7 linked regions of the Homo sapiens genome follow. The protein of the gene in region 3 purifies or fractionates together with the protein of the main gene of each other region. This does not show direct contact. Each region holds a gene or a part of one and is shown on either strand. Other genes may lie near its edges.

What was found.
Region 1: the proteins of LDHD (region 3) and MTCL2 purify together in Homo sapiens (affinity purification with mass spectrometry; one large-scale study listed by BioGRID and IntAct). This does not show direct contact.
Region 2: the proteins of LDHD (region 3) and NDUFAF5 purify together in Homo sapiens (affinity purification with mass spectrometry; one large-scale study listed by BioGRID and IntAct). This does not show direct contact.
Region 4: the proteins of LDHD (region 3) and UBR7 purify together in Homo sapiens (affinity purification with mass spectrometry; one large-scale study listed by BioGRID and IntAct). This does not show direct contact.
Region 5: the proteins of LDHD (region 3) and RACGAP1 purify together in Homo sapiens (affinity purification with mass spectrometry; one large-scale study listed by BioGRID and IntAct). This does not show direct contact.
Region 6: the proteins of LDHD (region 3) and CGAS purify together in Homo sapiens (affinity purification with mass spectrometry; one large-scale study listed by BioGRID and IntAct). This does not show direct contact.
Region 7: the proteins of LDHD (region 3) and CEP164 purify together in Homo sapiens (affinity purification with mass spectrometry; one large-scale study listed by BioGRID and IntAct). This does not show direct contact.

The regions. Positions count from the first base shown.
Region 1 is NC_000020.11:36,776,705-36,780,675, reverse strand, and holds the end of MTCL2 (microtubule cross-linking factor 2), read left to right. Parts: 3' UTR 1-2,844; coding exon of another isoform or gene 2,845-2,902; 3' UTR 2,903-3,229; downstream 3,230-3,971. UniProt on the Homo sapiens protein: Microtubule-associated factor that enables integration of the centrosomal and Golgi-associated microtubules on the Golgi membrane, supporting directional migration. Preferentially acts on the perinuclear microtubules accumulated around the Golgi.
Region 2 is NC_000020.11:13,798,141-13,802,315, forward strand, and holds part of NDUFAF5 (arginine-hydroxylase NDUFAF5, mitochondrial), read left to right. Parts: intron 1-320; coding exon 321-360; intron 361-3,345; coding exon 3,346-3,543; intron 3,544-3,677; coding exon of another isoform or gene 3,678-3,704; exon of another isoform or gene 3,705-3,733; intron 3,734-4,175. UniProt on the Homo sapiens protein: Arginine hydroxylase that mediates hydroxylation of 'Arg-111' of NDUFS7 and is involved in the assembly of mitochondrial NADH:ubiquinone oxidoreductase complex (complex I, MT-ND1) at early stages. May also have methyltransferase activity.
Region 3 is NC_000016.10:75,113,565-75,118,327, forward strand, and holds the start of LDHD (probable D-lactate dehydrogenase, mitochondrial isoform 2 precursor), read right to left. Parts: upstream 3,217-4,763; 5' UTR 3,157-3,216; coding exon 3,085-3,156; intron 2,097-3,084; coding exon 1,984-2,096; intron 1,776-1,983; coding exon 1,634-1,775; intron 1,405-1,633; coding exon 1,263-1,404; intron 1,122-1,262; coding exon 962-1,121; intron 671-961; coding exon of another isoform or gene 602-670; coding exon 402-601; intron 307-401; coding exon 178-306; intron 99-177; coding exon 1-98. UniProt on the Homo sapiens protein: Involved in D-lactate, but not L-lactate catabolic process.
Region 4 is NC_000014.9:93,226,785-93,230,189, reverse strand, and holds the end of UBR7 (putative E3 ubiquitin-protein ligase UBR7), read right to left. Parts: intron 3,248-3,405; coding exon 3,155-3,247; 3' UTR 975-3,154; downstream 1-974. UniProt on the Homo sapiens protein: E3 ubiquitin-protein ligase which is a component of the N-end rule pathway. Recognizes and binds to proteins bearing specific N-terminal residues that are destabilizing according to the N-end rule, leading to their ubiquitination and subsequent degradation.
Region 5 is NC_000012.12:50,014,989-50,019,163, forward strand, and holds part of RACGAP1 (rac GTPase-activating protein 1), read right to left. Parts: intron 3,602-4,175; exon of another isoform or gene 3,564-3,601; coding exon of another isoform or gene 3,528-3,563; intron 1,732-3,527; coding exon of another isoform or gene 1,728-1,731; coding exon 1,643-1,727; intron 1-1,642.
Region 6 is NC_000006.12:73,442,026-73,446,200, forward strand, and holds part of CGAS (cyclic GMP-AMP synthase), read right to left. Parts: intron 3,723-4,175; coding exon 3,503-3,722; intron 1-3,502. UniProt on the Homo sapiens protein: Nucleotidyltransferase that catalyzes the formation of cyclic GMP-AMP (2',3'-cGAMP) from ATP and GTP and plays a key role in innate immunity.
Region 7 is NC_000011.10:117,410,466-117,414,097, reverse strand, and holds the end of CEP164 (centrosomal protein of 164 kDa), read right to left. Parts: intron 3,271-3,632; coding exon 3,204-3,270; intron 2,801-3,203; coding exon of another isoform or gene 2,776-2,800; exon of another isoform or gene 2,304-2,775; coding exon 2,181-2,303; intron 2,027-2,180; coding exon 1,930-2,026; 3' UTR 832-1,929; downstream 1-831. UniProt on the Homo sapiens protein: Plays a role in microtubule organization and/or maintenance for the formation of primary cilia (PC), a microtubule-based structure that protrudes from the surface of epithelial cells. Plays a critical role in G2/M checkpoint and nuclear divisions.

The sequences.
Region 1 (3,971 bases), on a different chromosome or scaffold from region 3:
AACTGCAACACTGTGCCTGCGAGTCTCCTTGGAAAAGTGTAAGGTTCTACACAAATGGAAAGTGATCTGATCACACTCAGTGTCCCCAGCCCAGCCTTTCAGTGCCCTGGCCCTGGGGTGGGGGACAATACTCTCCTCACCCCCTTCACTAGTCTTCATGAATAGCAAGGAGGCCATAACATAATTTGGTCTAAACCCCTTCCTTTTTAAAAGAATGATGGCAAAATGTGCATAACATTAAATTTACCATTTTAAAGATTTCTAAGTGTCTCGAAGTACATTTGCAATGTGTAACTGCCACCTCCAGAACTTTTTCATCATCCTAAACTGAAACTCTGTACCCACTAAACAGTAACTCCCCACTCCCCCTGTCCCCAGTCCCTGGTAACCTCTATTCTACTTTTTTTTTTTCTCTGTGGATTGGCCTATTCTAGGTATCTCTTTTAAGTAGAATCATATAGTATTTGTCCTTTTGTGTCCAGCCCCCTCATTTTTTGAGATGAGGAATCAGGCCCAGAGAAGGCAGTGGCTCACCCAAGGTCACATCGCAAACCAGAGGCAGAGCCAAGACCAGAACCCAGGTTTCCTGACTCCTAACAGGTCTTGCATCCCCAGTAGTGAATGAGACACTGCTTTGACTTTCTGTAATCTTGGTTTAGCCCCTTCCTTTCTCTGGGCTCAGTCTGCTTCCCACCACTCACCCATTCTTTCTTTATCATCTCCCTCCAAAGCCTCTTGTCCTCCTGCCTCCTCTTCTCCTTGGCTGGTTCCTGCCAGCAAATGGAGTGGCCCTGGTCCATGCCAGGTTTTCCTCTTCTGGGTCCGGAGCTCACTATAGTATTCAGCCCTCAGTCCTCCCAGGATGTTCTTCCCAGCACTGCTGCCTCGTGCGGATTTTCCCGTAACCTCAGTAACTGGCTTCTTGTCCCCCTGCTTCCTACCAGGGAAGCCTTCCTGTCCGCGTCTGTGGTTTCCCAACTCTGATATTTGCTCTCAAATGTGGTGGTGTCCTGGTTCTGTGTTTATTTATTTTGTGTTTTCTCACACACACAAAAAAAAGCCTCTTCCTCCAATGCATCAGGAGGCACCAGCCCTGCCAGCCCTTCTCACTGGGCTCACCCTGCCCCAGCAACCCCCCGGTGCCACCCTTAAGCCACACTGTCTTCTCTGTAAGCAGCCTGCCAGCAGCAGCCCCAGCACTTTGCAATGGGCGTGTGTGTGGTGGTGGGTGGGGGGGGCTTGGATCCCTCCTTTTTCCTCCCCTGCCCTGCCCAGGCCCAGATGGCCTTGACTGTAAAGCAGGTGCTGCCTGACAGGTTCTTCTCTCCCTGTCTCTGGTCATTGATCCATCTCTTTGTCCATTCAGTATCCAACCATCCTCTCCATTCTCCTCTGGACCTCACCACTCTCAGAGCTGCTTGTCCTGGCAGAATCTACAGTTCACCCCAACTCTATGCCTTACCCCTCCCAACCCAACAGCATTTGCAGTTTGCAAAATATACAGACCCAAGTCCTGAGGGGACTGAGGACATGATGCTGGGCCCAAGTCTCCTGCTCAGGGCTTCTCTCCAATGCCAGCCCTGCCACTCCTTCCTCACCCTCCTTGGAGCCTCCTCTGCTGCTTGTCTATCCCAACGGCCCTGCTCCCCTCCCTTCCTGCCCTTCACCAGCTTTCTGGACACCATGCCCTGAGGAAGGGACCTTTGGTTTTCTCTAAACATCTTTGAAGGGCTGAGGCAGTCAGGGCTGGCTGCCTTGTCACTCTTTATTTGGAAGCCACTCAAACCATTCCCAAGAAGAGGGACCTCAGCTGGCAATCTGGAAACCTGGCCCAGGTCTGGGCAGATGTCTTCACTTCTCCTACCTTCCCAGTCTTGTGATCCTGTGATGAGCACCAGGATGGCCCTGTGGTCCCTAGAGCACCCCTCATGCTGTAGGGTCCTGCAGCCCCATCCTTTCTCTACTGGGCCCTGGTATCCTGGCTCCTCTCTCAGCTCTGCCACTGATCTCTGTGCCTTAGTTTACTTCTCTGCACGGGGGACTCACCCCAAGACCATTTCCAGCAGCTTCCCAGGTGATGTGGTGCCCCAAGGCTGGGCTTTGCCAGCTGTGGCCCAGCTCCTTAGTGCTGCCCAGGAGACACCAGGCTGCTCAGAATGAGGTGACTGCGGGCACCATTCTCAGCCAGTGGTTCTTGTATTGCATTCCAGCAGCAGGAATATCACCTGGGAACTTGATAGAAGTGCAGATTAGCAGCCCCACCCAAGACCCACTGAATTAGAGCTTGTGGAGTGGGGCCCTACAAGCTGGGGTTTTAAGGAGCCCTCCAAATGATTCTGACGCATAAGAATATGCCAACTGCTGATCTGGGCTAGCCATTAGTAGAGCCTGGGGAGGGACTGGGACTGGCTAGGCCAAGAACAGGTGGAAAACACCAGCCTTATCTGGACTCCTGAGATTGGGAACCACCACCAACAAAAACCAACCCTATAGTCGCTCCTCTTGGAAGAGGAAGAGAAGTTGAAGGGCCTGGAGAAAGCACACATTGTTTGTTTCCCTGCTCCTGCTCACCTCTCTCACTTGTCTTGGTTTTACAAAAGGCTGTGTGGATGGTGCCAGCCAGGGAGGGGGTGGGAGTCCTGGGGAGGCAGGAGGCAGAAGACCCTGACTGTTTCTCCCTTGGGAACCTCACCATAGGCCAGATAGCGCCTCTTCAAACTGAAAGAAATCTTAACTCCACAAAGAAAGCATCCTAAATCCCCAGTTCCTCCTCCTCCCAACCCCAGGGATACCTTGTAGACAGTGCCAAAAAACAGCTCCAACCCCCAGCAGCTGGGAAGAGAGCCAGAAGCTGCCCTTCCTCCTCATCCTGGCCCCTCCCCAGCCCCCGCCAATACTGTGAACCCCCTTCCCACTCAGCCTGGTTTCCTGGTGAGGGTCCTGCAGTCATGGGCCCTGGGGGACCCCCAGGGCAAGGCCCATGGGAGGGAAGGGACCAAGGGCATCCTTGGGCCAACTGTCCACCTCTCTTGTCCACTATTCTCTCCTTTCCACTTCTGTCTTCAAAAGGCTCCTTCCTAGGATGGATCGGGTGCTAGGACAACTGCAGTCCAATCCACCAGCTCTCCCTGCCCCTGTGTCTTATTTCAGACATGAGAATAACTGTACAGTGTAAACTTATAAAGCGTTTTTAATGGTTGTAGATTGGAAATAAAGTATGTCATATGAACAGCTGCTGTGGACTTGGCCTCCTCTCTGATTTTTCTAATGAGGTGGGTGGGGGCCCCAGCGGATCTGAAACCTAACTTTTCCCCACTCCCAGCTGCCTGGGAAGTGGGGAGCCCAGGGAGGCCACAGCCAGCTGGCTGGTTTGGAGTCACTTGGGAGGGGCCACCAGGTGTTCTGGCTGCTGCCTGCTGATACTTCAGCGTCTCCCACACAGTGTGATATGACCACTGAGAAACAAATGCAGTCTTCAAAAAGAAGAAAAATAGAATTGAACTTTTCTACAAAAGACTTTAACAATTTTATGAAAAAAAAAAAGACACTTTTAGGTGTGTGTCAATTGTCTATTGAAGCGTAATTAATTATTCCGAAACATTTATTATACCCCACAGATGCTATGGGTCAGGAATTTGGGAGCTGGGCAGTTCTGATTCAAGGTCTCAGGAGGTTGCAGTCAGTTGTCAGTCAGGCTACAGTCATTTGAATGCCTGATGAGCTGGAAGACCCATTTGCAAAGTAGCTACTTATGCCTGGCAAGTCATTGCTAGCTGTTTGCAGGAGGCCTCAGTTCCTCACCATGTGGACCTCTGTAGGCTGTTTGCGTGCCTTCACAACATGGCGTCTGGCTTCCTCCACAGCATGTGATCTATGAGAGAGCAGGGAGGAAGTCACAATGTCTTTTATAGCTAAGCCTTGAAACTCACAGACTAGGCCAGGCGCGGTGGCTCATGCCTGTAATCCCAGCA
Region 2 (4,175 bases), on a different chromosome or scaffold from region 3:
ACCGTTTAGATAAAATGCCTAAGTAGGAATGACTTTTACATAATTCAGTGATGAATAATTAGAAAATAATCATATCAGATTCTTTCAGTTACGCAAAGTGATATATTGACATGGGGAATTTTCTGGTGTGACACAAGGCAGGTTTTCCTCTAGGAATATTTATAATTTTAAAACCTGTATGAAAACGATCAGTGGATTTGGATATGCAGTTTTAAACTTCAAAATTAACACCTTTTTATGGGTTATCATTAACCTGGTGATAATTTTACTAATTAATTGTGCCAGTTAAGCTAAAACAAATCTGTATTCTCATATTTTAGTTTGCATTGGGTGAATGACCTTCCTAGAGCACTTGAGCAGGTAAGAAAACTTATGTTCATTCAACTATCTTGTGTTATTTTCTTTATTGTTAGAAATCTACAGATGTTTCTATTTTCACATACTATTTACTTGTAGGTCTGACAGTTGGGAAAGAAATCGGTGAAATCATCTGGTGCCATTTGGCATATTAGTAGTACATTGGGCAACTCTCCTTTCCCTGAGAATTTAAGAAATCTAATTGTAGAGATAAGTTTTAAATATTTATGAAAAGCTTAGGAACTGTGCAAAATAATATTGAAATCATAAGACATTCTCTATGTAGATTTCTTCTTACCCTTAGTTGCCCATAAACTTTTTGCAAGTAGGAACCTACTTATTTATATTTGTATTTTCTCCATGCCTTATACTCAGAGAGTGCTAGGTAAGTTTTTATCGATTGACACGTATCAATAGACAGGTGAGAGGCAGGTAAAAAGTATGTGTTCAAAGGAGAGAACAAGATCCCTGTGGCTTGACATGGCCTAGAAAAGCTTCAAGAGGAAAGTACTTGAGCAGGGCCTTAGAGGGTAGGTAAAGTTTGGATTGGGAAGGCATTCTAAGAAGGCAGAATCACAGGATAGGTGGAGAGGCACAAGAGCTTCATCAGCATTAAGGAACAAAAAGGAAACCTGTTTGGAGGACTAGTATAGTGCTGGGAAGTGAGGTGTGATGTATTGGGACAGTATTTAGGAGGATTTGAGTGTCAGGTTGAGGAATTTGGAGTTTATGCAATTCAGAGCCACTGGAGCATTTTGAAGAGGAAAATGACATCATTATAAAGCTGGTGGGCAAAATAATAATGGCCATATCTGAACACGTATGATTTTCCAGTTTCCCGTTACTGTGCTCTGTTTTATATTTGTGTTAAATAGCTCTGCGAGATGTATTTATTTTGCTGATTAGAAACTGATGCCTCGGCTGGGCGTGGTGGCTCATGCCTGTAATCCCAGTACTTTGGGAGGCTGAGGTGGTTGCATCACCTGAGGTTAGGAGTTCGAGACCAGCCTGGCCAACATGGTGAAACCCCGCCTCTACTAAAAATACAAAAATTAGCCAGGTGTGGTGGCAGGTGCTTGTAATCCCAGCTACTTGGGATGCTGAGGCAGGAGATTCTCTTGAACACGGGAGGCAGAGGTTGCAGTGAGCTGAGATCACGCCATTGCACTCCAGCCTAGACGACAGAGTGAGACTCTGTCTCAAAAAAAAAAAAAAGAAAGAAACTGATGCCTGGAGCAGTTCGTTAAATTGAAGGGAGACTGTTTCAGTGGTCCAAGAATGAGATAAACTAAACCTAGGTGGTAATGGTAGGAGTTAAAAGGAAGAGTATTTAGGACTCTACAAGGAAAGAATCAACAGTTTGGTGACTGATTAGATCTGAAGATCAAAGGGAGGAGGCAAAACTCACTTTGAAGTTTTTGAGTCTGGATTAGTAAAAGTAGGGGAAAGAATGTTAATGATCAGATAAAGGGAATAGAAAATGGCAATAGAAATATGGCAGTTGGAAAGGGGAATTGATTTGATAAATAGATGTTTTCCTTGTAGGGGTTGGAGGGAGCAGGGACGGTGAGTATGCTGAGAGACAAATGTCCAGGGAATAGGCAGTTGAAGATGACTTTGGACTTCTGAGAAGATGGCCAAGCTGAAGTTAGGGATTGGAAAGTGGTCATTGTGAAATCATGGAAGTTGATAAGCTGTCTGAGGGAGAGCGGGGAGCTGCAGAATTCTGAGAACTAAGTCTTAGGTATTTGGTTTAGTAGAGTTTGATGACAGGAGGAGGAAGCAACACTAAAGGTGAAGAAGGGAAGGAACCAAAGCTTTTACAAATTATTTACTTAATACTGCTTTTAATTGCTTCATGACATATTAAATATAAATTTAAGACAGTACTTTTATTAGAAGAGCCTACTGTGATTTGGATTCTGGTTTACTTCAGAATCTACCTTTTCCTGTAATGGTCCTCATTGCTGAGAATAGTCAATCAAACTAGTTACAGCTTGTAGTCTGAGAGTGAGCAAAATCTGTGATTCTGGAATTCTCTCTGGCCATTATTTTCCTTAAGTTACTAATTAGAAATTGGTTTTGTTTTAAAGCTGGAAAATAAATTGATTACTTCTCTTTAACGAAAGGTAATATGTTACTAGGTTAATGCTGTGAATCATAATGATTTCTCTGTAGCTTTTTCTGCATAATAAGGCACCCCAACTTGATGGCTTAAAACAACAACTATGTAGCCCATGATTTTGTGGGTTGGCAGTTGGGGCTGGATTTGGTTAGGAAATCTGGGTCTGGCTTGGCTCATCTGTGTGTCTGTGATCAGCTGCCAGATCGTCTGGGAGCTAGCTGGTTTGGAGGGCCTCGGTGCACACAGCTGGCTGATCTCTGCCCTACATCTCTCCTCCTCCTCTAGGCTAGCTCAGGCTTGTTCACACATCGTGGCTGGGCTGGGCTCCAAGAGAGCAGGTGGAAGCATGCAACACATTTGAGACCTAGACGTGGAACTGGCACACTGTCACTTCCACTGCATTCTTTTGGCCAAAGCGAGTCACAAGGCCAGCCAAGATTCAAGGGGAGGGGAAATAGACTCCCTATCTTGATGAAAGTTGTTAGAAAACGACGTTTCAGAGGCCATAGATGCAGGGAGGTTTGTGATTTTTGCAGCCTACCCCAATTAAATTTTTTTTTCTCTTTCAGCATTTTTCTGATTATAAAACTAAGTTGTATACCTATTAGAAAACTTGAAAACATACAACATATTTTTATAGGCATTAATATTAGTGAATGTATAGTTGTCTTTCCAAGTATATTATGCATCATGATTTTCTGACAGTTGGTTGCATTAGATGTTATTTGTTAAATTATGTGATTATTAATTTGGCAGAATAAAAGTGGTTGTCATAAAATGTTAATTTAGACACTATATATTTATTTTTTAACATTTATATATATAAAAATTTGAATCATTTTGTTTTCTTGTATTTATTACAGATTCATTATATTTTAAAACCAGATGGAGTGTTTATCGGTGCAATGTTTGGAGGCGACACACTCTATGAACTTCGGTGTTCCTTACAGTTAGCGGAAACGGAAAGGGAAGGAGGATTTTCTCCACACATTTCTCCTTTCACTGCTGTCAATGACCTGGGACATCTGCTTGGGAGAGCTGGCTTTAATACTCTGACTGTGGTAACTATCAAGTTCGATTAACCCATAACTTACACAGTTCAAAAAAGAACTTCTTATCATTTTAAAGATAGAAAACTGTATGTGTTCATGGTTTCATGGCACTCTTTCTCTCCCTTTTTTTTTCTCTTTTTAAGGGAAAAGCTCTGATTGACAATGTTTAGTTTGTATAACACATCTTAATTGACACAAGGTAGGAATGTATAATTTTTTACTGTTACCTTAAAAAGTAGCTCAAAAAATGTATCATAGTTAACAAGACAAATTTCTAAACATACAACTCCATTAGAATCTTCAAATCTAGTATTAGGTGTAAAAAGGGCCTTAGAGTATTCCAGATGATAGGAAGAAAAGGGGATAAGTAGGGGAACCTGTAATATTACCACCAATAACTACCCCCAAACAGTGCCATATGAAGCAGAAATGAGAGAATGTGTGTTCTCAAGGCCTAGGGTGAGATCAAGGCTAAAGAAGGTAGGACAGGGTGCTGTACTCCATTAGGGCTAGAGAAATCTCGAAAGAAGACCCATGGGCAATCAGTGAGTAATAAGCATGAAGTCAGCATGGTACGGTGACGGGGTAGGACAGTAGGACTTTGTTCTCCGACAGGAGTAACTTGGATCCTTACCCTATTT
Region 3 (4,763 bases):
GTACCAGGCATTGTGCCGTGCTGTCCAAAGCCGGCTGCGCTCCTCGGCCTCCTTGGCCCAGGAGAAGTCAGAGGCTCCGTTCTGCTGGACTATCTCCTCTGCAGTTGGGGAAGGGGGGCTGACACCGGGCCGCCACTGAGGCAGCCCACCCTGCTGCCCCACTCCACCCCAGCATACCTGTGCGCTGCAGCTGCTCCTCCAGTGCCTGCTGGGAGCCATGGAACTCCAGGAAGAGTGTGGGCGCCACTAAGCAATTCAGCTTGCTGTACCTGTTGCAGGCATCCATCATGACTTCATCCAGGAACTCTGGATCCAGGGAGATGGCAGGCCAGGTGAGGCCTGGCCTTCCCAGGGGGCCTCTTCCAGGGAGCCCACCCTGACTGCCCCCATCCTCAGCTCACCAATGCGGGCTACGGGCACTGCAGCCTGGAGGATGTGTACAGTGCTGTCCACAGCAGCCTGGACACTGGGGAACGCACACGTGGCGGCCACTGTGGCCTCAGGGGCAGGGTGCAGGCGCAGGGTGGTGGCTGTGATGAGGCCCAGCGTCCCCTCGGAGCCCACGAAGAGCCCCGTGAGGTTGTAGCCGGCTGCACTCTTCCTACGTCCCAGGGACACACAAGGTGAGTACCAGGCTGTGTGATGAGGGATTTCTGGCCAGAAGCCGAAGCTGGAACCCAAGACACCGACCCCAGGCACTGAGGTCTGGGCTGGCCTCCCTCGGGCCCAGTTTCCCTGGCCCAGTGCTTTCTGCTCCACAAAGCCAGTCGGCCTCAGGCAGGGAGAGCAAACCCTGGTCCCATCCACTTTGGCCCAGCTGACAGGGCTTCAGAGCCTGAGGAAGCCTAGCCTGCCAAACCAGGGGGCCGCCAGGAGGTGCTTTTCACAGCCCGGTCTCTGCAGGGCAGCCCGCCAGCAGTGCCCAGGGCCAGAGCCCGGGCCCCCCGCAGAGGGCGCTCACCGGAAATGCCGGCCTCGGCCCGCCGTGTGCAGCAGCCGCCCGTCGGGCAGCACCACCTCCAGGTTGAGCACGTTGTCCCGCATGGTGCCGTAGCGGACCGCGTTGGTCCCCGACGCCCCGGTGGCCGCCATGCCACAGAGAGAGGCGTCCGCGCCTGGGTCTGGAGGGCGGCGTACAGAAGGCAGCCTCAGGGACCGGAGGTCCTTTCCCTCGGGCTGGGGGAGGAAGGTCCCCTGAACCCCAGACACAGCCCTGCTCCCACGGTGCCCTCAGGGTCCCAGGAAAGGTTCGCGAGTCCTACCCACGGGAAACCAGAGGCCGCTGTCCCGCAGGTGGGCGTTGAGGGCTTTGCGGGTGACACCTGGCTCCACCACCACAGAGAAGTCCTCCTGGTTCAGCTCCAGGATTCGGTCCATATGCGTCAGGTTAACGCAGACGCCGCCCTGGTTGGGGCAGGTGCTAAGACCACTGCAGACCTGGGTCTCTGACCTGGCCACGTCCCCGGACCACACCCCGCGGGTGTCCCCCCAGCAGCCAGACCAGACCCCCAGAGGCAGGCAGCCCACGGGCGGGAGCAGACCCAAGGTGCCGTGTGTGGCGGGGGAGGCAGCCACAGGTGTGCCAAGGTGTGCTGGGACCATCCTCGGGCCGGGCGAGGGAGCCCCACTGTACCTGCACAGCACAGACGCCACCCTCAAGCCCGGTGCCGGTGCCGAATGGGATGATGGGCACACCTTGGCGATAGCACAGGGCTGCCAGCCGGCTGACCTGCTCCACGTTCTGGGGCCACACCACAGCATCAGGAGGTTCGCACCTAGAACCAGACCCTCAGCGATTTAGCGGGGCGTGACACCCTCTGGTCCCGAGGTGTTGCAGGGCCTGAGGCTACAGCAAGCGAGGGGCAGAGAACATGCCAGAGCACCCCAAAACAGATGAGTGAGGAGGAAGGCAACCCAGCACCCTCTCTCTCAGCTGGGGTTGAATCCAGAAGACAGGGGAGGGGCCCGCGAACCCTCCCATACCTGTGCACCGACTCATCGCGCCCGTGCTGCTCTCGGACCACCGCGGCAGTGGACACGTGGGAGCCGCCCACCACGGCCTTCAGAGCCTCTACGAAGTCCCTGCAGAGCTCTCCCTGCAGGGAAGAAACACACTGCCAGGGTCCCCCGAAAGACACATGGGGCCACAGCCCTGCCCCAGTGTCGGGGGGAGGGCTGGGGGCTGGAGGCTGGAGTGAGCCTCCCCTGCGCCCGCCCCGCTGACAACATCCTTGCCAGGTGGGCCCACTTTAAACAAACCCACTATCCAGAAATGCCTCTTTTCCAAACAGAGCCATTGGGGGTCAAAGTTTCCCCTCAGAAAAAAACGCCACCAGAATTTTTTTAATGTTTTCTTTTTTAATAAAAACAGGGTCTTACTATGTTGCCCAGGATGGTTTCAAACTCCTGGGCTCAAGCGATCCACCTGCCTCGGCCTCCCAAAGTGCTGGGGTTACAGGCGTGAGCCACAGCGCCCAGCCATCCAAATAAAAAACCAGAATTCACTCTCCAAAAAGGCTATCAGCAGGGTTCCTTCAATAGCCAGCCCAGCCTGAGCAACCGAAAAGATCCCTCACTTCCTCCTTTCTCCAGGGCCAACCAAGCACCACCCCAGCCACAGGGAACTCAGAGCTTGATAAGGGAATTAGGGGGAGGAAAAGCTTCCACTGCCCCCTCCCCACTCTACGTTGCCTGGGGCTTCTGGGCCCTTCGTGGGGGGCGGGGCGCGGCGGGGCGGGGGATGTGTTTCTTCCCATTTTACAGATGAGAAATGGAGGCCAAGTTAAGGACAGAGCCTGGCCTGGAACCCAGGCCCTTTCCTTCAGGGCCTTCTTCCACAGGTGTGTTTTATTCCAGGGGCATCCATTTGACTCCCCCAGCCCCACTCATGGTAGCAGTGGGGACTCAGCTGATCTCACTCTACACCCACCCACAGTTGCCACAGGGTAAGCCCAGTGCCCTTTTGCCCAAGGTCAGGTCACTTGGTGCTGGGGCGTCACAGAGCCCAGGAAACTTGGGATCAGAACCCCCTGCTCCCCGCTCCCCACCTCATCCCTCCAGAGGACTTCTCTTCTCTCCCGGTACCTTTGCCTTCTGGGAGCAGTAGCCCCTCCAGGGGAACAGCTCCCAGGTTGCAGACCTGAGCAGTCGGGCCATAGCCAGGCACTGGCCAGAGGGTGTGAGCACTGGGTGGCAGGGTGACCAGTCAGCTACTGTGGCAGCAGCTACTGCTGCTGTCAGCCCATTGGCTAGGCCAGGGGTGGGGCCTGCTTAAGGTGGCACGGGCTTTAAGGTGGCCCTTGCAGATCTTGCAGACATTTTCGTGGGCTCCAGGGACGACACTTCTAAAGGAGAGGCGAGGTTCACTGGACGTTTTGGGAAACTGTAAGGCAAAAATAAAATTCTAAGCCTCCCAACCGACTGAATGGACCTCCCTCTCAGCCCAGGGCATTCCAAAATAAACCTGAAAAATTAATTCAGGCTGTGATGGGAAGAGGTTTAGGACAAGCCTCATTATCCCCCTCCTTCCTTTAGAATTCAGACACAACTGACCAGCATTAACATTAAAACAGAGACCTTAAGGCATTCTGATCTTAAGACACAAAACAGACTCTTTGTAGCAATAAGATACCAAATTCCAACCTGACTCTAGCATCACCTGACAGATAGCAGGCCCTGAAAGAAATCAATGTATTTTACCCCCAAAATATATTCCTCTGATTTTTTTTTTAAATAGCTCCAAAAAGCTGTCTTTTGTGGGGAAAATCTAGAATCTGTAGAGAATCCCCTCCCCTTTCCAGGTTTTTTGTTTTGTTTTGTTTTGTTTTGAGACAGAGTCACTCTGTGGCCCAGGCTGGAGTGCAGTAGCGTGCTGCAACCTCCACCCACTGGGTTCAAGCGATTCTCCTGCCTCAGCCTCCCAAGTAGCTGGGATTACAGGTGCCTGCCACTGTGCCCAGATAATTTTTCTATTTTTAGTAGAGACAGGGTTTCACCATCTTGGCCAGGCTGGTCTTGAACTCCTGACCTCGTGATCCACCTGCCTTGGCCTCCCAAAGTGCTGGGATTACAGGCATGAGCCACCGCGTCCAGCCTCTTTCCAGGTTTTATCCTGATCTAAGGGAGATTTAACTAAGAGTCTGGCACCTTTTAACGCCTTAGACATTTACCATCTATGTTACATAATAAGAACCTTGGGCCGGGTGCAGCGGCTCACATCTGTAATGCCAGCACTTTGGGAGGCCAAAGTGGGAGGATCACGAGGTCAAGAGATAGAGACCCTCTTGGCCAACATGGTGAAACCCCGTTTCTACTAAAAATACAAAAATTAGCTGGGCATGGTGGTACACGCCTGTAGTCTCAGCTACTTGGGAGGCTGAGGCAGGAGAATCGCTTGAACCCAGGAGGTGGAGGTTGCAGTGAGCTGAGATCGCACCACGGCACTCCAGCCTGGCGACAGAGCGAGACTCTGTCTCAAAAAAAAAGAACCTTGGTCTCCACAACTCCTTATCTTAACCCAGATGCTTATTTCTATTGATTCCAGGTTGTCTTTTTTAAAATTTTTTATTTAAAAAAAATTTTGTTGTTGTATACCAAGATTCCAAGTCTTTGGATAATAACTTCTTTCAACCAATTGAAAATCAGAAATTTTTTTTTTTTTTTGAGATGGAGTCTCACTCTGTTGCTCAGGCAGTGGCGTGATCTCAGCTCACTACAACCTCCATCTCCTGGGTTCAAGCTGTTCTCATGCCTCAGCCTCCCAA
Region 4 (3,405 bases), on a different chromosome or scaffold from region 3:
AGTCCACATCCAAGGTAGCAGGAGTTGTGGGGAGGCCAAAGATGGGCCACTATACTGGCTTTTTGGGTTGCTTTTATATTTACTTAGAAATAATGGCTACTGTGTAGGGTGGACCTCACATTTTCCTCAGGATGTGGGCTCCAGCCCTCTCTCCCTCTGCATGCAGCAGTACCTGAACACTGTGACTGGTCACAGCCCAGCCCATTGCTTTGTTCTGCTGTTCATCTAGACCCCAATTATTAGACCCCAGGGGGTATGGTGAAGTCGGGGGGATGAAGGAGCTCTGCTCGGGGGACCTGGGATCAGGCTGCATTTTACAGAACAGCAGAATAATGAGCTACCCAATGTCGTGAACCAGTCCCTCTGCTTTGAGGGCAGGACCTCAGGGCAGGAAGAGCTGTTAGAATACACCATTACGTTTCTTTTGAAGGATGAGGTCTCACTCTGTTGCCCAGGCTGGAGTGCAGTGAGTGGCTGGCTATTCACAGGTGCAACCACGGCACTCTATAGCCTCCAACTCCTGGGCTCAAGCAATCCTCCTGCATCAGCCTCCCAAGTAGCTGGGACTACAGGCGTGAACCTCCATGCCCGGCTCTATGCATTTTTTCTTTTTTTTTTTTTTTTGAGACAGTCTCGCTCTGTCGCCCAGGCTGGAGGGCAGTGGCGTGATCTCGGCTCACTGCAAGCTCTGCCTCCCGGGTTCACGCCATTCTCCTGCCTCAGCCTCCCGAGTAGCTGGGACTACAGTCGCCCGCCACCACACCCAGCTAATTCTTTGTATTTTTATTAGAGATGGGGTTTCACCATGTTAGCCAGGATGGTCTCGATCTCCTGACCTCGTGATCTGCCTGCCTCGGCCTCTCAAAGTGCTGGGATTACAGGCGTGAGCCACCGCGCCCTGCCTGCATTTTCTTAAAACCTGCAGAGGGAGGCTGTGTAGACTTAAATATACTAAAAACAATCTGAAAAGCAACTATTTTGTATTGGTTTTATTTAAATTTTACAGAAACCTGATCAGAGTTAAGTATGTAATTATAAGTCCAGTAACAATTTCTACAAAAATGCACATACAATGCCAGAACTCCTTAAAAGCAACTAATATCATATTTGTGTTTTGCATAAAACATGCATTAATATGTTGGCCAAAATCAGTCTCTACAAGAAGAGACAGTCCAATACAGTCAATAAGAAAACTAGTTGTGAACAACAGGTAAAAAAAGAGGTTTCCAGTTAATGTGAAAGAAGGAATAGTACCTTTCATAAAACAAGCCCTTCAGCGCTGAGTTAACTGATCGGTACTATTGTGCTGCACGTAATGTAACACATCACCTCCAAGACTTGGTCCTGATTGGTCATAGGAAGTAAGGGACTTTCTGGTAGTTACATCAGATATTTGAGAAGATTAAAAGTTTTCCGGACATGATGGTATACTAATAGTGCAACCTTGCAAAAAGGGTTCGAAACATTGTCAGACTTGGAAGAGTTCCCCAGCTTGATAAACAACCTCAAAGACACCCCGAGCCTTTGAACGGAGCCCTCTGCACAAGGCCAGCTCAGGGCTCACCAGCATGTCCTGTGGCCACAAGACCTTCCAGCTCCACATACCACCCTTCGTGAGGATCTGCAATTAGGAGCCTGAGTGCCGAAGAACATGGTTGTGCCATTTCTTTGAGGCTTTGACTTTTTATAAGGCCTAGTTCATCTCATCCAGGGATTGGGCACTCGAATGAATACACAGATGCTGGACACATAAGGAGTATTAATATACATGGTGGCCCCACAGCCTGAAATGCTTTTATTAACATACATCAAGGTGTGTCTCCGACTGTCAGGAAAGACCTTGGTCCTCCAGAGGCAGAGAGAAGCTGAGGGTTCTCTATGTATCACAAGGCATTTCCTACATAGACTGAGGGGTGTTAAAGAGATCTCATATCAACTGAAAGGACTTCCCCTCAAATGTGGGGCTCTGTACAACCTTCCATGAGGATCTTCAAAAAAAAGATCTCATAGTCGTTAGGGAAGTGGCGGTGGACATTAACATTATATACACAAAACTCATCATTCGTGCAGCCTCGGGCCTTGTTTGTAATCTCTTCCACAGTCTGTCTCTTCCAAAACAGGGCTCCCTGCCCTGCTTATTTCAAGTAAGCTAAGTCAGGATCTGTTTTCTTTAGCAGATTCAAGGGGGAAAAATAATAATTTATTGGGGTTCTAATAACATTTTCATAACAGAATATCAAAATAGGTCCATTTTTGATATATGCTTATGAATATCCCTGATAATATCAAGAAATCCAGAGGACTTCGTAAACCACCAAGATTTCACAGGGGTGAGACCCGGTCTGTTTTCTAGGCAGCAGAGAAGGGACTAGTATACGGGCAAATGTTCTCCAGGAAGCCCTGTGAGCACTACAGTACTGAAATTCTAATTCTAGTGCCAATAGAATCATGAACGAAAATTTCACTTGAACTGTATTAGTAAAATTCATAACAAAGGCTTGCTTCCTCAACCCTGTCATCTGTTAATCTCTCCGCCTGTGACAGACATCCAGACCAGAAAACCATCAGTCCTGGCTACTCTGGAGGTTGGGCCTAGAGAAAACAAGCCCCAAGATCCTTTCTAAGCTATGACCAAACCTCAGAAAACAGGGACGTGAAAGAAGGAGCAGACCAGGCTTGAGGAAGCTTTGACCCAAGGCACCACGATCATAGGGGCGAGGGGACCTGTAGAGGTTCTAGGTGACGGGAAGAGAGCCTTCCGTGATGCCTGCGGAGGAGGTTCTGGAAGGCAACAGCTCTGTGGCAAAACACACACATCTGGGAGTGAAATAACAGATCATTAAACAAGACACCAATTTGCTTTCTCAAAACAAAATCAAACTTAAAAACTATGCAAATAACCCTGGGTGCACTGGAGTAGGAGTACACTGGAGAAGTCTGTGGAATGAGCTGCATCAGCTGAGTCACAGAGGACGCTGGCTGTGAAGTCAGCATCCACACGGTGGCTACTGCAGCTAAAGAGAATGAAGGGAGCGCGAGGCCTCTCCAAACAGAGGAGGACGGAAAGGGGGCCAAATGTGAACCACACCTCTTTTATTCCAAGAATGGGAAGCGCATTTTCATTGGCTTGAATGAGAAAGCTTCATACTCCACTCTAGCTGCAGTAATACTGCATCCCATCCACTCTTCTTCTCTTTTTTGACTGAAACTCTTCAAAGAACTGCTGAATGTCCTCTCTCTTAACAACCTGTTTTTGAAAAGCAAAGATTATGAAAGAGAACTAAGTAACAGAATCGCAATCCGAGGTCATAGCATTCACAAACAAGTCAAATGATACTGTTAAGAATTATGTTAATGATAACATCTCCATTTTCTATTTTTTTTTTTTTTTTTTTTTGAGATGGA
Region 5 (4,175 bases), on a different chromosome or scaffold from region 3:
GCCGAGACCACACCAGTGCACTCCAGCCTGGGTGACAGAGTGAGATTCTGTCTCAAAAAAAAAAAAAAAAAGAGAGAGATGGGGTTTTGCCATGTTGCCCAGGCTGGTCTCAAACTCCTGGACTCAATCGATCCACCCATCTCAGCCCTGCAAAGTGCTAAGATTACAAGCATGAGCCACTATGCCCGACCGCTAATATTTTCAGAGACAGTCTTGCTATGTTGCCCAAGCTGGTCTCAAACTCCTGGCCTCAAGTGATTCTTCTGCCTCAGCCTCCTGAGTAGCTGGGAATACAGGTGCAAACCACCAAACCTGGCTCTCAATCCTTAATTATTTAGCATCAAATATATGAAGTAGGTGAAAGCAAATGCCTAGTATCTCCTTCAAAAAGAAATTATGGACTGGGCCTGGTGGCTCATGCCTATAATCTCATCACTTTGGGAGGCAGAAGTGAGAGGACTGCTTGAGGCCAGGAGTTGGACACTAGCCTGGGTAAAATAGGGAGACCTTATCTCTACAAAAAATTTTTAAGGCCAGGCGCAGTGGCTCACGCCTGTAATCCCAGCACTTTGGGAGGCCGAGGCGGGCAGATCACGAGGTCAGGAGATCGAGACCATCCTGGCTAACACAGCGAAACCCCGTCTCTACTGAAAATACAAAAAAATTAGCCGGACGTGGTGGCGGGCGCCTGTAGTCCCAGCTACTCAGGAGGCTGAGGCAGGAGAATGGCGTGAACCCAGGAGGCGGAGCTTGCAGTGAGCCGAGATCGCACCACTGCACTCCAGCCTGGGTGACAGTGCAAGACTCCATCTCAAAAATAAAAAAAAAATTAAAAAAATTTAAAAAAAAATTTTTTTTAAAGTAGCTGGGCATGGTGGCGCAACCTGGGTGACAGAATGAGATTCTTAAAAAAAAAGAAAAAAGAAGAAATTATGAATTTTTCCCACTTCAACTGAAAATGCTTTATAGAACACAAAGAAAATCCAGGATAAAAAAAAGACAACTACTACTCTAAAGAAAAAAGCAACATCCTAGTAAATTTTTCCCAGTTCATGGCACAGAAAATAGTGCCAACTATTCAGTGGAAAAAGAATCTTGATAATAAAAAAGCAGCCGGGCACGGTGGCTCACGCCTGTAATCCCAGCACTTTGGGAGGCCGAGGCGGGCGGATCACCTGAGGTCAGAAGTTCAAGAATAGCCTGTGCAACATGGCAAAATCCCGTCTCTACTAAAAATACAAAAAATTAGCCGGGCGTGGTGGCGTGTGTCTGTAATCCCTGCTACTCGAGAGGCTGAGACAAGGAATCGCTTGAACCCGGGGAGCAGAGGTTGCAGTGAGCCGAGATGTCGCCACTGCACTCCAGCCTGGGTGACAGAGAGAGACTCCATCTCAAAAAAATAAATAAATAAAGATAATAAAAAAGCCTGGCTAAAACCTATTAAGAGCAGCTATAGAAAAGAATTTTAGTGACCATTTAGAATGAGTGCCCATTAGGCTTTGACCACGTAAGTGATCACTGCTTTCTTTTTAGGTAACCCAAATGGAAAACAACTTTAAGATTGGAAAATACTTCAGCTTTGTAAAAATCCCAAATTTGAAATCTGTTTTTCCTTTGGACAGGCCAGCTCAGAATGACTTACGGACTTCATTTCCTTCACTGAGAATCTCCACCCGGCGCACAAGCTGCTCAAACAGATTCCGCACATTCAGCATCATAGTATCCATCTTTCTGCCAAGAAATCAAATATACATTAGGGGTCCTGCCTTCTCGCCCACAACAAAAGATTCTATAGCAATCCAGCCATTAGTGACCAACATCTGGACTCTTCCATTTATAACTACCATTATAAGAATCTCAAGCTAACAACAGATGTTTTGTGTGATTCTTATTATAAAAACAAACTTGGAATGTTTAAGACTCATCTGAAAATTAGAAAACCATTTCAGACCTTTGAATATAACAGCCCCTCCAATCACTTGGAGCAGAAAACAAATAGGAAAGAGCATGTCAGTTCATTAGCAAGTGACTGACCAACAAGAAAATGTGGTTCTTCAAGTCAAGCCTATTGATTAATATAATAATTTTGCCAGTTTATTCCTTGTGGGCTTTGAAGACCTACAATGTAACTTAAAATATCTATTTTTAATTTCATTTTTAGCTAATGCCCCTGTTGCAACTGCCTTTTAAAATGCAGGACATGGTCAGCACATTTCCTACCAAAAGCACAGATGACGTCACATGAGTGATTAAGTGGGAAAATCGCCAGCTCAGCAGCACAAGAATTATTTCTGTAATACAGGGCTCTCTGCTGGGCTGCGTGCAGGAACTACGTCTAATAAATTTATACTAAGTAGAGGCAAAGGATTATGTTGTACCACATTCTGGCATCAGAGAGACAATACAGCACCTTCACAGTTCGAAGGGCAAAGCAAAAATCATTTGCTACTGTGTCCTGTATAGTGAATTTCAGACTTTGTATTTCCCCTCAAAGGCCTGCTGATACTATAGAAAAAACAGTGTCGTTACAGGCGGTTCTATTCCAAATAGACTTTAACTGGGAACACTTTGAGGAAATAAGATCTTCACTTAACAGTCAAGAAAGAAAGACATTAACTGGATGTTATGAAAACTATCAAGGAAATGAAATAAAAAGTCAAATTTTATTAGAAATTTAATGTCCTCAGAAATACCATTAAAGGATTCTTGTGTTTCTCTTAACCAATGCTTCAACATTCTAGTCCAGGTCCTTATTTCCTAAATAAAATTTTAAGAACTCTTATGAAGGGTTAGTGATTTTGCAATGTTTACAAGATTGCACCACAAGCTATGAGAGCAAGAAAAAATATATAAAAAAGCACAAAGGACAAAGAATATATGAACATAGGCTGGGCACGGCAGCTCACGCCTGTAATCCCAGCACTTTGGGAGGCCCAGGCGGGCGGATCACTTGAGGTCAGGAGTTCGAGACTAGCCTGAGCCAACATGGCAAAACCCCGTCTCTTCTAAAAACACAAAAATTAGCTGGGCACAGTTATGTGTGCCTGTAATTCCAGCTACTTGGGAGGCTGAGGCAGGAGGATCGCTTGAACCTGGGAGGCAGAGGTTGTAGTAAGCTAAGATGGTGCCACTGCACTCCAGTCTGGGTGCCAGAGTAAGACTCTGTCTCAAAAAAAAAAAAAAAAGAATATATAAACATGAAGATATTTTATATATTAAATGCTGCAGAATTATACATTTATACTCATATGATAATTGCTATAATAGAAAAAAAGTTCTCAGTTCCAAGCCTGGATGCAACATATACCTGAATCAGGGCCGGAAACCAAGATTTTCAAACGGCAAGTATCTGTTCCAAGCTACATAATCACAGCAAGCTGCTAAGCAACCAGACCAACAAATTTATTACAAAGATCTTTCTCTAAACTAAGAACAAAACTAAAAGGATAGCATTAAAACCGGCAGGAAGAGCTGTGGAATTCATGGAGATGCCATGGATTTAACATATAATGAAATAGGCAACATACCCTAAGTGCTACAGGACAGAAACAGGGGCAGGACATTGGGTAGTCAATTCAAATGTTGATTTCCTTTGGCTCTCCTGAGGTAAAAATGGAAGACTCTAATCAGTAGTTTTAATATAAGGTATTACTTTCTATCATCTCGGCATTCACTTATATATCGTGAGACTATAAGACAGCTCAATACCACGGCAAAACTTCTATCTGTCCAAGAATTCAAAAAGGAAAATTTCATGGTGCTAGGATGTTGAAAACTGGTTGTTTAAAAAAAAGCTTTTTTAGGGGGGGTTTTAAGTCTTAAATTACAATATAACCTGTTCTCTTGTCCATTTTTTTTTTTTTAATTTTTTGAGACAGAATCTTGCTCTGTCCCCCAGGCCAGAGTCCACTGGCGCCACCTCAGCTGACTGCAACCTCTGCTTCCCAGGTTCAAGTGATTCTCCGGCCTCAGCCTCCTGACACTGTTCTACTCTTCCTGTTCATGTCCATCAACTACGCTACTCACTGACCTACCCTATCCCATACCCTACTGACTTCCAATTTTGATTTCCCTATTTTTATCATTCTCTCAGTCGCTCAGTTCCAAACTTCAGAATCACCTCTGGTTCCTCCCCTTCCCACAGCATAATCACTAAACCTTGTGTACTCTTCTCT
Region 6 (4,175 bases), on a different chromosome or scaffold from region 3:
CCACACCTGGCTAATTTTTGTATTTTTAGTAGAGACAGGGTTTCACCATGTTGGCCAGGCTGGTCTTGAACTCTTGAGCTCAAATGATCTGCCTACCTTGGCCTCCCAAAGTGCTAGGGTTACAAGTGTGAGCCACTGTGCCTGGCCCTCCATCTACCTTTCAAAGGCCACCTCTGCCCATAGTCTCTGGATCCCTTCCTTCTCAACTTCTCAAGTACCATGCTCTTCAAGTATTTCCTCTCCTACATCAGCCATCTCTCCCTCCCTGCTAGATTATTCTGAAATTCATACAAAGGGTTATAGGGTATACCTCTCCTTTCACCCCACATCTTCCTCCTCTCCATACTCACCCATCTTTCTGCTTCCTTCCAGCCCAAACTTTTTTTTTTTTTTGAGACAGGGTCCCGTTCTGTCACCCAGGCTGGAGTGCAGTAGCGTGAACATGGCTCACTGCAGCCTCAACCTCCTAGGTTCAAGCAATCCTCTTGCCTCAGCATCGTATGTAGCTGGGACCACAGGCACATGCCACCACTCCTGGCTAATTAAAAAAATGTTTTTTTCTTTTTTCTTTCTTTTTTTTTTTTTTTTTTTCTGAGACAGTCTTGCTCTGTCGCTCAGGCTGGAGTGCAGTGGCGCAATCTCAGCTCACTGCAACCTCTGTCTCCCAGGCTCAAGCAATTCTTTTGCCTCAACTTCCTGAGTAGCTATGATTATAGGTGTCTGCCACCACGCCTGGCTAATTTTTGTATTTTTAGTACAGACGGGGTTTCATCATCTTGGCCAGGCTGGTCTTGAACTCCTGACCTTGTGATCCGCCCACCTTGGCCTCCCAAAGTGCTGGGATTACAGGCATGAGCCACCATACCTGGCCTAAAATTTTTTTTTGTAGAGATGGACTCTCACTTTGTTGCCCAGGCTGGTCTTGAACTCCTGGGCTCAAGCAATCCTTCTGCCTTGGCCTCCCAAAGTGCTGAGACACCACAGTTAGCCCAGACAGAACTTTCTAGAGTGGCCTACACATGTTATCTCCACTGCAACCCTGCCTTTTCACTCTGTGTCCATCACCCCACTGACATTTCTCTTGTCAACCCCACAAGACCAAAGAACAAATCCATTGGATTTCTGGATGTCAGTAGCATTCCAAACACTGACCGCTCCTTCTACAAAACACTCATAGTCTCCTTTTGTTCATTCTCTTCTTCCCAAACTCTTTTTTTTTTTTTTTTTTTTCTGAGACAGGGTCTCACTCTGTCGCCCAGGCTGGAGTTCAGTGGCGCGGTCTCAGCTCACTGCAACCTCCGCCTTCTGGGTTCAAGAAATTCTCTGCCTCAGCCTCCCAAGTAGCTGGGATTACAGGCACCCGCCACCACGCCCGGCTAGTTTTTTGTATTTTTAGTCAAGACGGGGTTTCACCATCTTGGCCAGGCTGGTCTTGAACTCCTGACCTCGTGATCCACCCGCCTCGGCCTCCCAAAGTGTTGGGATTACAGGCGTGAGCCACGGCGCCTGGCTCTTCCCAAACTCTAATGGAATTCTCTTCTTACCACTCTACTTAACATTGCAACTTCCCCCCCACCTCCATCTCCCACATTCCTGATCCCTCTCACTTTGCTATACTTCTTCACAACAGCACTTACTACTTTCCAGTATACAAGATAATCATTTTTTCCATTTGTTATTAATTGTACGTCTGTGCTTGCAAGATAAAGCTCTTAATCTAATAGCGTAATAACATACAACACAAATTGCAGTGAGTGCTCTGAAGGGAATAAACTGGGAAAAGTGATAGCAATTAGGGTGGAATGGGGTGGTGGAGCCAAGCCCTGAGGCAGAAAAAAAGAGCTTGGAAAGATCTAGGAACAAAAAGAGACTCTTTCGGAAAAGATGAAGTTATATGAAATGAAGCTGAAGAGGCAGCCAGGGACCAGATTCTGTACTGACTTGTAGACCCTGAAAAGGACTTTAGATTTCATTTTATTTTTGAGACGGAGTCTTGCTCTGTCGCCCAGGCTGGAGTGCAGTGGCACGATCTCGGCTCACTGCAACCTCCACCTCTCGGGTTCAAGCGATTCTCCTGCCTCAGCCTCCCGAGTAGCTGGGATTACAGGCATCCACCACCACGCCTGGCTAATTTTTGTATTTTTAGTATAGATGGGGTTTCACCATCTTAGCCAGGCTGGTCTTGAACTCCTGACCTCGTGATATACCTACCTCAGCTTCCCAAAGTGCTGGGATTACAGGTGTGAGCCACTGCGCCTGGCCAGATTTTAATTTAATTTAATTTAATTTTATTTTATTTTGAGATGGAGTTTCGCTCTTGTCACTCAGGCTGGAGTGCAATGCCCCGATCTCGGCTTACTGCAACCTCTGCCTCCCAGGTTGAAGCAATTCTCCTGCCTCAGCCTCCCAAGTAGCTGGGATTACAGACATGTGCCACCACACCCGGCTAATTTTTGTATTTTTAGTAGAGATGGGGTTTCTCCATGTTGGCCAGGCTGGTCTCAAACTCCTGAGCTCAGGTGATCCACGCACCTCAGCCTCCCAAAGTGCTGGGATTACAGGTGTGAGCCACTGCGCCTGGCACCAGATTTTATTATCTGATCATTGAGAAGCCAGGTTTTCATCAGAGAGTAATGACTGGCTTTGTATTTTAAAACATTTACTCTGGCTTCTAAGGACAGATATTATAAGAAGGCAAATAGGGAGATTAGAAAGGAAAATGATGTAATAGTTCAGGTAAAAGATGGTGGCAGCTTAGGTGGGGTGGGAGTAGGGTGCTGGGATTGAAGCAGCAGACAGGTCCAAGCTGTAGCAGCACTTGCATCTGGATTAAGCGTAGGGGGTAACAGAGAGGATTAAATTAAGATGGTTCCCAGGTTTCTGGATGGTGCGTCTGGGTGGATTGATTGTGCCATTTTCTGAGATGGGAAGGACTGAGGCAAAACATAGTTTGGTATATGAATTAAGTTATGTTTATTCGCTTTGGATATGTTTGGTTATAGATTCCTGTGGTACATCAACATCAAAGTGGATATGTTAAGGACGTAGCTGGATATAGGTTTGGAGTGCAAAGGATATATTTGGGCTGCAAGTAAACATTTGGGAGTCATCATCATATAGGTGGCATTGGGAATGGATGAAATACCTAGGCAGAGAGTGTAGATTCATTTATCCATCAATTTAATAAATATTCATTGATTATTTCATATAATTTAATCATTTAATTTAATCAATATTCATTGATTATCTAATGTGTAGGTGTTCTAGTTATTTAGGATTCATTAGAGAACAAATAGATAAAGACCTCTACCCTTCTGTACTTTATAATCTTGTAATCATATTATAAGTAATTGCCAATGTACACTCCTCTACTGATGTTTCTTGACCTCTCTACTGCACTTTTTCTTACTGCAGAGAGGTCAAGAAACATGAGAATGGGAGTGTACATTGGCAATTACTAGGTATAATTAAACCTTTAAGAATCAAAAGGCAAAAGTCTTACCTTTAATGTCGTTAATTTCTTCCTTAATGATTTTCCTAAACTTTGACAGCATCTTAGAAGCTGATAATATTTCACCTTCTAAAAACTGACTCAGAGGATTTTCTTTCGGATTTCTTTTAAATTTCACAAAGTAATATGCACGAGTGTTGGAATATTCTTCTAGTTGAATTCTGGGGACTTCCAGTTTAAACATGACATCAAATTCATTAGGTGCAGAAATCTAAGAAACAGTAAAAATAGTACTGAAATATTTGCTTATGAATATTTTCCAAGTGACTGGAACTTTTTAAAAAATTTCCACTTAAAACTTTACTTTAAAAAGCAAGATTCATAATGTCTATATATACCCTCTGGGAGTGGGACTAGTGGAGCTGGCAGGAGGTGGAAGAGTATTACCAGTTTCATTTTGTAGGTTCTACACTCAATTAATTTTTTTTACCATGACCTAGTATTATTTTTATAACTAAAAATGATTTTAGGCCAAGTGCAGTGGCTCACACCTATAATTAAATTTTGTGGGGCCAGGTGCAGTGGCTCATGCCTGTAATCCCAGCACTTTGGGAGGCCAAGGCGGGCGATTCACCTGAGGTCAGGTGTTCGAGACCAGCCTGGTCCAACATGGTGAAACCCCGTCTCTACTAAAAATACAAAAATTAGCCGGGCATAGTGGCAT
Region 7 (3,632 bases), on a different chromosome or scaffold from region 3:
TTACACAAATCCATGTCATGTGGCCATCTTGGTTTGCTCTCCTAGAAATTCTGTTGCTACAAATCCAAGACTGTATTTAGGCTGTTCACACCGCTGGAGCAGAAAAACCCAGCTAACTGCCAGCTTAGGGACTTTGGGGGACTCATCTTGCATTTGTCTGCATGGGGAAAACACCAATCAGCCTTTGGGAAATGGCACCATGGGTCTCCGGCTGGTAGGAGGGAGAGCTGTGAAGGAGCAAAGGGAGAGATGGCGAATTCAGCACTTCCCAAGGACTGGTAGTAGGGAAGACGGCGCTCTGGGGGTGCAGGGATGGAGTGTGGGGACACTGCACATGTAGGGAGCTCAGCTACTTTACTGGGGACCCCAGGCATGTAAAGGTTCTCTAAGCCTTGGTTTCCTCGTCCATAAAAACAGAGGAGAAAATATCTACATCAATATCTACATTGTTGCGATGATTAAATCAGATACTACATAGGGCAGTGTTCTATGAATATTCATTTTTCCTTCCTCCCTTCTCAGGAAGGAGGCAAAGGCCTCCCAAAAGAAGGAGACACATTTACATGACTGCCTTGTAGAAAATGGACCTGCAGAGATTTAAATGATGCAGAAAATACCCAGGATTATCACTAGAGTTGGTGCACCACATAAGCTATTCCCAAAGCACACATGATGAAACGGAGTTTTCTATGTAGTGGGCTGATGCTTAAAAGGCATCTGAGGAGATCAACAGCCAGTTGGATCTTAGTTTCTTATTCCATGACCACGAAATGAGTTGGAGGACGGAAGGAGTTAATTTGTGTGTCAGAGAAGCAAGGGCAACCCCACAGCTTGCAAAAAAAAAAACAAAAATAAGTGCATTTTATTTAAACAACGGAACAAACATCAGAGAGCATCCCCTGCAAAGCCCCCACCCCAGAGCCTGCTGATGGAAGCGGGGCTGCAGGACGCTCTGCCACAACGGCAGCATCTCCAACTGCACAAAGACCCCTTGCTGCCAGGGCCGGGCACCGGCCTAGCTCCTTGCCTGCCTGCCTGAGGCAGCCGTGGAATCAGGGCAGGGGTGGCACAGGTAGAAAAGACAGATGGAAACAATGCCCATGAATATACCCAAAGTGTCCCAGGAGGATAAAAGCCATCATGAGGACCAGAAGCCAACCCAGTCTTTTTTTGGCCTCCTGGAGAAGTTGTTTTTGAGACCTGAGACTCCAGCTGAAATGGCTCCCTGAGGAGCCCCAGGGAGCAGGAGGGGTGTTCTGAGGACAGCCCCTGAGGAAAACACAGTGCCTGCAGAGGGACAGCCCCCAGCACCCTCCGGCAGGGCTCTGGACAGCTAAGCCCAGTCCTGAGAGGGTCAAAAAGAGAGATGGAATGCTCAAGAAAAGAGGCATTTAAAAATTAAGAGAAGAAAGACAAAAAAGAAAGGGTCTGATCTGAGGCTGAGGTATTGGAGATAGATGTGGGCCCAGAGAAATCGGGTCCCAGGGTACACACATGCTGGGGGTCTTTGTCCTGATGAATTAAGAACCATACACACAACCTCCTTGGGAGCCCCGAGCAGTGCGCTGCAGGGCCAAGGAAACAACCAGCTCCAAAGGGACTCCCTGAGCCTCCGAAGGCAGCTCCTCTAACGCCTCCCTTCCTCCCAAAGGGCTCCCGGCCCTGATACCCCGCAGCCACCGCACGCCATCAGCTTGCCATGTCAATGACAAGAGCTCGTACGAGTCCACACATTTTAGCCTGAGATAGGTTATATAGTCACAGAATGTGTGGCTTTACTGTTCCACTCAACCCCCTGGTCCCTGGTGGCTCCTGCAAGTCAAAGGGGGAAGGAGGGTGCTTTCTCAGATGGAAGAAGGCAGGCAGCTCCTCAGGCACTTGGTCTGGGTGGAGGAGAGGCTGGGCTGCCCCAAGCCCCTGCTCAGGGCCTCAGAAGCGATACACCTTCACTCTGTTGTGCTCATCAAGGCCCAGCTGCAGGAGGCTCAAAGTAGCTTTTGGCTTGGGTGTTGACGAGAAGAGAGGTCTGGCCACAAGGTGAAGGAAAACTGCAGTCGCTGGGCATAGCCAGGCAGGGGCCATGAAAGGGTCAAAGGCTGAACAGGATCCTCCTCAGCCCCTCAGGGCACAAGCACAGTCCCCACAGCCCAGCCCAGTTTGGGAACCAGGTAAAAGGATACAACCTGGGGTCATTCTTGACACGTTCCAGCCACCTCCGGTTGGCCTCAATTATGCCCTGAAAGGTGGTGCTGCCCGCCTCAGGGACTTGCGAATGGGAGTGCTGTAGGAGCCGGAGCTGCTCACTGGGAAGGAAGAGGAGAGCATGGCGAGGGGAGAGAGGAGGCGCGGAAGTGACAGAGGATGCACAGAGGCCATCACATCTGTCACCTCCTCCCTCTTTCTCTCAGCTACCAGAGCAGCTTCTCCGAGGTCCCTAGCAATTCAAAGCTTCAAAACATCTGCCCCTCCAGAACAGTTCCCAAACGGGAAAGTGGTGGAGGCCCTCTGCCCCCTTGCTGGGTGCTACTGATACAAGGCTCTGGGCTCCCACATCCGCCTGCTCCCGCCAATCTCATCAGCAAAGCGCTCCCCTCTGTCAACTCAATCCTTGGCCAGCATCAGCTCTCAAGTTGGCCAAAGGGTTAGTGGGGGGTACTCACTGTTAGCTGCCTAAGGGAGGGAGAGGGGAAAACATTTGGCAAGGAATGAGATGAATGGAAAATTAATAACAGGTTTAAATAATTGCCCGTCTGTCTCCTCCACAGGGTGTCCCTCTCACTCCAGATGTTGCTCAGCAGGACTGGGGGAATAAGGGAGCCACAGGAAGCAAACAAGAGCTCAAGGGCAAAGACAAAGGCCAGACTCCGGGGCTGGAGGGGCTAGAGGGAGGGGCGGGGGCAGGGTCCCACCAGGGGCTGACTCCTCCCCACAGGGGCCAGAGGGCAGCTTCCTCAGGGGGTTGGCAGGGTAAGCCCAGCCCTTCCCCACTGGGACCTTGGCGGTGTGAACTTGACTTTCCCCTGGTCATGGAGGGGCGCCTCAGACCCAGGCAAGCGGGGACAGCTCTGTGGACTAGAGGCCTGCCTGATTTCTTGGGGTAAGACCAGGAGGTCTGCTCCCCTCAGAGGTCCACCTGCCCAGGGAGGCACAGTGAGCAGCTCGACTATGACGTTCCACCCCAACCAGCCCCCAGGGAGGCTCACCTGGCAGACATGTAACCCAGCCTGCTCTCCAGCGGGGTGGGGCTGTTGCTGAGCAGCGGGATGCCAGCTGGAAGAGCATGGGGACAGGACTCAGAAATGGGCAGTGGTCACCACCCTGCCCACCAGCACCTCTTGCCTCCCCAGAATAAACAATAAAAGGAAAAGCTTCAGTGGCTGGAGGCCAGAGACAGGTGAGAGACAGGAATGGTCCTATTTATTTTATTTTTAAAACTTAATCTACTTTTCAATTTGGGTTAGGGCAAAAAGAAGATATTTTGTTTCCCCTCAAATGCCTTGTTTTATGGCTTTTCATAATCCTCAGCAGGGCTGAGACCTGGGGAGGCCACCTGGCTCAGAAGCAAGAATTAGCCACACAGCCAAGAGGTTCCAAGCAGAATCCTGGAGTCACAGAGACATGGGGTCACAACT